Regions from separate parts of the Homo sapiens genome. Here region 2 is linked to region 1. Evidence: fine-mapped expression QTL. Tissue or cell type: whole blood. Region 1 holds a variant in brackets; the other region holds the start of a gene. All regions are shown on one strand. Distances are from middle to middle.

The links. PIP is the estimated chance that this variant, and not a neighbour inherited with it, causes the effect.
Region 2: TNFRSF1B starts here. The variant in region 1 is fine-mapped to the expression of TNFRSF1B in whole blood (TOPMed, PIP above 0.99).

What each region holds. Positions count from the first base shown.
Region 1 is chr1:12,206,398-12,209,153 of GRCh38, forward strand. It overlaps TNFRSF1B (TNF receptor superfamily member 1B), which reads left to right. Exons shown (of 10, transcript NM_001066.3): 10 at 343-2,756. The coding sequence ends at 623. Among named protein-coding and RNA genes, the nearest start is that of MIR4632, 16 kb to the left of the region's middle. RefSeq lists an enhancer at 593-1,093. The variant C/A (reference allele first, on the strand shown) is at 1,010.
Region 2 is chr1:12,165,658-12,168,285 of GRCh38, forward strand. TNFRSF1B (TNF receptor superfamily member 1B) reads left to right here and starts at 1,334. Exons shown (of 10, transcript NM_001066.3): 1 at 1,334-1,512. The coding sequence starts at 1,435. MIR7846 (microRNA 7846) reads left to right here and starts at 1,286; the gene lies at 1,286-1,381. RefSeq lists silencers at 1,170-1,479, 1,490-1,719 and an enhancer at 1,760-2,401.

The DNA of each region.
Region 1 (2,756 bases):
ACTATGTTGCCCAGTCTGGTCTTGAACTCCTGGGCTCAAGCGATCCTACAAACTTGGCCTCCCAAGTAGACATCTGTTTTATATAATTGGCTCCTCCCATCTCTGGGGTGATTGGGGCTGGGTAGGTAGTGATGCTATTCTTATTCGGCAGAGGGGAAAATGAGGCACATGCAGGTTAAGTGACTTGCTCAAGGTCACACAGCAGAGCTGGGCTAGAATCTTGGTCTCGGCTCCTGGCCCAGTGCTCTTTCCCATGTGTCTGAATCTGCATCTTGGGCAGGGGTCCCTGGGCCCCACTCCTGGACCCCCGGACTGACCCCCACCCCATCTTGTGCTTAGCAGATTCTTCCCCTGGTGGCCATGGGACCCAGGTCAATGTCACCTGCATCGTGAACGTCTGTAGCAGCTCTGACCACAGCTCACAGTGCTCCTCCCAAGCCAGCTCCACAATGGGAGACACAGATTCCAGCCCCTCGGAGTCCCCGAAGGACGAGCAGGTCCCCTTCTCCAAGGAGGAATGTGCCTTTCGGTCACAGCTGGAGACGCCAGAGACCCTGCTGGGGAGCACCGAAGAGAAGCCCCTGCCCCTTGGAGTGCCTGATGCTGGGATGAAGCCCAGTTAACCAGGCCGGTGTGGGCTGTGTCGTAGCCAAGGTGGGCTGAGCCCTGGCAGGATGACCCTGCGAAGGGGCCCTGGTCCTTCCAGGCCCCCACCACTAGGACTCTGAGGCTCTTTCTGGGCCAAGTTCCTCTAGTGCCCTCCACAGCCGCAGCCTCCCTCTGACCTGCAGGCCAAGAGCAGAGGCAGCGAGTTGTGGAAAGCCTCTGCTGCCATGGCGTGTCCCTCTCGGAAGGCTGGCTGGGCATGGACGTTCGGGGCATGCTGGGGCAAGTCCCTGACTCTCTGTGACCTGCCCCGCCCAGCTGCACCTGCCAGCCTGGCTTCTGGAGCCCTTGGGTTTTTTGTTTGTTTGTTTGTTTGTTTGTTTGTTTCTCCCCCTGGGCTCTG[C/A]CCCAGCTCTGGCTTCCAGAAAACCCCAGCATCCTTTTCTGCAGAGGGGCTTTCTGGAGAGGAGGGATGCTGCCTGAGTCACCCATGAAGACAGGACAGTGCTTCAGCCTGAGGCTGAGACTGCGGGATGGTCCTGGGGCTCTGTGCAGGGAGGAGGTGGCAGCCCTGTAGGGAACGGGGTCCTTCAAGTTAGCTCAGGAGGCTTGGAAAGCATCACCTCAGGCCAGGTGCAGTGGCTCACGCCTATGATCCCAGCACTTTGGGAGGCTGAGGCGGGTGGATCACCTGAGGTTAGGAGTTCGAGACCAGCCTGGCCAACATGGTAAAACCCCATCTCTACTAAAAATACAGAAATTAGCCGGGCGTGGTGGCGGGCACCTATAGTCCCAGCTACTCAGAAGCCTGAGGCTGGGAAATCGTTTGAACCCGGGAAGCGGAGGTTGCAGGGAGCCGAGATCACGCCACTGCACTCCAGCCTGGGCGACAGAGCGAGAGTCTGTCTCAAAAGAAAAAAAAAAGCACCGCCTCCAAATGCCAACTTGTCCTTTTGTACCATGGTGTGAAAGTCAGATGCCCAGAGGGCCCAGGCAGGCCACCATATTCAGTGCTGTGGCCTGGGCAAGATAACGCACTTCTAACTAGAAATCTGCCAATTTTTTAAAAAAGTAAGTACCACTCAGGCCAACAAGCCAACGACAAAGCCAAACTCTGCCAGCCACATCCAACCCCCCACCTGCCATTTGCACCCTCCGCCTTCACTCCGGTGTGCCTGCAGCCCCGCGCCTCCTTCCTTGCTGTCCTAGGCCACACCATCTCCTTTCAGGGAATTTCAGGAACTAGAGATGACTGAGTCCTCGTAGCCATCTCTCTACTCCTACCTCAGCCTAGACCCTCCTCCTCCCCCAGAGGGGTGGGTTCCTCTTCCCCACTCCCCACCTTCAATTCCTGGGCCCCAAACGGGCTGCCCTGCCACTTTGGTACATGGCCAGTGTGATCCCAAGTGCCAGTCTTGTGTCTGCGTCTGTGTTGCGTGTCGTGGGTGTGTGTAGCCAAGGTCGGTAAGTTGAATGGCCTGCCTTGAAGCCACTGAAGCTGGGATTCCTCCCCATTAGAGTCAGCCTTCCCCCTCCCAGGGCCAGGGCCCTGCAGAGGGGAAACCAGTGTAGCCTTGCCCGGATTCTGGGAGGAAGCAGGTTGAGGGGCTCCTGGAAAGGCTCAGTCTCAGGAGCATGGGGATAAAGGAGAAGGCATGAAATTGTCTAGCAGAGCAGGGGCAGGGTGATAAATTGTTGATAAATTCCACTGGACTTGAGCTTGGCAGCTGAACTATTGGAGGGTGGGAGAGCCCAGCCATTACCATGGAGACAAGAAGGGTTTTCCACCCTGGAATCAAGATGTCAGACTGGCTGGCTGCAGTGACGTGCACCTGTACTCAGGAGGCTGAGGGGAGGATCACTGGAGCCCAGGAGTTTGAGGCTGCAGCGAGCTATGATCGCGCCACTACACTCCAGCCTGAGCAACAGAGTGAGACCCTGTCTCTTAAAGAAAAAAAAAGTCAGACTGCTGGGACTGGCCAGGTTTCTGCCCACATTGGACCCACATGAGGACATGATGGAGCGCACCTGCCCCCTGGTGGACAGTCCTGGGAGAACCTCAGGCTTCCTTGGCATCACAGGGCAGAGCCGGGAAGCGATGAATTTGGAGACTCTGTGGGGCCTTGGTTCCCTTGTGTGTGTGTGTTGATCCC
Region 2 (2,628 bases), 41 kb before region 1:
TGTGGGGCTGGTGGCCGGGAGCAAGGGTCTCTGTACCTCTTCAGGCAGCCTGCAGTGAGGAAACAGGGAACAGAATAGCCTCCTGCCACCCAGCCCACCCCAACCCTTAGAAATGCCCTATGTGCTGGGGGCTAGGACCCCCGTAATCCAGGGCTGGAGGAATGTGCTCTGGCCCCGCAGGGCTGGCCCTGTATTAGGGCTGGCACTCAAAGTGGGGATGGGGGGACAGATTGCAGCTGGAATGGGTGCTCGGTCATGATGTAAATCCTGGGGAAGCCAGCTCTCCTGGGCCTGGTCTCAGCAGCCCCTCAGGGCCCTGCAGCTTCCCTGGTGACATTCTCTCCCAGCCTCTGTTCATCTGCCCCCTGCCTGGGCAGGAGACTTGAGCAGGGAAGTGCAGAGTCTTCTCCCTGTGAGAAGGCTGGATGCGTGTTTAAGGATAAATGAACACGCGAAGAGTAGTAACAACAGCCAAGATTTATAAATGCCTATTGTTATATATGTAGATACTTACTTAAGTATATATAAAGTACAGACTGCATTATGTATATTACATATCTTTAAATTTTTAGAATAGTCCTATGAGGTCAGTTCAGAGATCCAGACCCAGGTGGTCTGGCTCTAGAGTCTAAACAGGCCGAGTGCAGTGGCTCACACCTATAATCCCAGCACCTTGGGAGGCCAGAGGCGGGAAGATCACTTGAGGGTGGGAAGAACACGTGAGCTCAGGAGTTCGAGACCAGCCTGGACAACATGGCGAAACCCCATCTCTATAAAGAAATCAGCCTAGCATGGTGGCCCGAGCCTGTAGTCCCAGCTACTCGGGAGGCTGAGGTGGGAGGATCGCTTGAGCGCAGGAGTTGGAGGCTGCAGTGAGCTATGGGTGAAAGAGTGAGACCTTGTCTCAAAAAAAATTAAAAAATAAGAATTAAATATATTTAAAATAGAGTCTAAATAAGTGAATGATCTAGAATTCTCTTGGTTCCCCTAAAGCAGCTGTCAGCTTTGGGGGATGTTTTTCCAAATTAGTGCCTCACCCTCACGGGACAGGGAAGCCTGTGGGAGCTGGGAGGGCAGGTGGAGGCCGGGCAGGTGGAGGCCGGGCAGGTGGAGATGGTGATTCGAAGAGGAGGGGACGATAGGAGGAGGTTGAGGGGTCACCCGAGTGCTGGGAGTGACGCTGGAGGTATCGGCCCAGCGATGCTGGAGTGGTCGGGTCGGAGGCCCAGCAGCGTCTGGGGAGGGGCGTGGGGGAGGCGTGTCCAAGGCCGGCTGGCCCCGCCCCGCCCCGCCGCCTGGCCTCTGGCCCGCTGGGGCGCGGGCTTTCGCTTTCAGTCGAGGGCTAGCGAGCGCAGCGGAGCCTGGAGAGAAGGCGCTGGGCTGCGAGGGCGCGAGGGCGCGAGGGCAGGGGGCAACCGGACCCCGCCCGCACCCATGGCGCCCGTCGCCGTCTGGGCCGCGCTGGCCGTCGGACTGGAGCTCTGGGCTGCGGCGCACGCCTTGCCCGCCCAGGTGGGTGACTCGCGCGGCCCACGGGGGACAGCCGCCCCGCATGTCCACCCGGCTGGTGCGCAGCCTTCGGGTGCCCGGGCCGCGCTCTCCCGGGGCGCTGTCACGGGCTGGGAGGCTGGGAGTCCCAGTCGCCGCCCCCCATCCGCATCAGACACGCGCGCCTCTGGGGACCCGCTGGGGACTCCGGGCCCGGCACACGTGCGCTCGGGGCACAACTCTGGCCCCCGAAGCCCCTCTTACCCGCGTCGTGACAGGGGCGCACCCTGGTTCCTCCGCGAGCGCAGGCCGGGGCATTTGGGGCTGAGCAGCGGGTCCTGGGCAGACCCCCGCTAGACCCGGGACCCCTCTTCCCTCACCCCGGCGACTGCCGCGACAGCCCTTCCCTCCCACGCGGTGGAGAAGGGGCTGTGCCGGGGCGCTGCCCCACTGCCCACGCCGGGCACCCTCTTCAAAAGACTTCCTTTTCCTCTGGGCGACGGTTTTCCGATTTCTTAGAAATACCAGGGTCCTGTGTCTGAAGAGCAGGACCAGGTGTGTGTCAGGTCCACTGAGGGCACAGCTGGAGGGCGAGCTGCCTGTCTGCTTCCTCCGATGCGTCCGGGGGCTACTGCAGAGTCTGTTTTCTGCGGCCTCTGGGGACAGGGCAAGCGAGGGAGGTCTGGGCTGGTAATCGAGCAAGGCAAATGAAGTCTCCGGGGGCCGCAGGAAAATGGAGACAGCAGAAACCCTAGGGCTCCTATTCAATATGAACGTCACTCCCACAGTAGCAACGGGCGTACAAGGGACTGTGCACCCTTTGCCTGTTTTTGACTGTCTCCTGGTCTGGTAACATAGGATAACCCCATTTTTGTTTTACTGTCTCCATGGTTTGGTAAGATAAGATAAACCATTTTTTAGAGAAGGAAAACTGAGGCTCAGAGAACTTGTATTTCATGGAAGGGTCTGGGGGGAACTCTTCCTCCAAAGGGGGCCTCTCCTGCCTTCGGCCCCTGTGCCCTGAGGCTGCGGGGAAGGTGGGCGTTCATCCTTCCTCAGAGCCGCCCCTGATGGACACATGGCCCATCTGCCCCCATCTGACATCTTGACCGAGGAGGAAGGTGGGAGGTGGCACTGGCT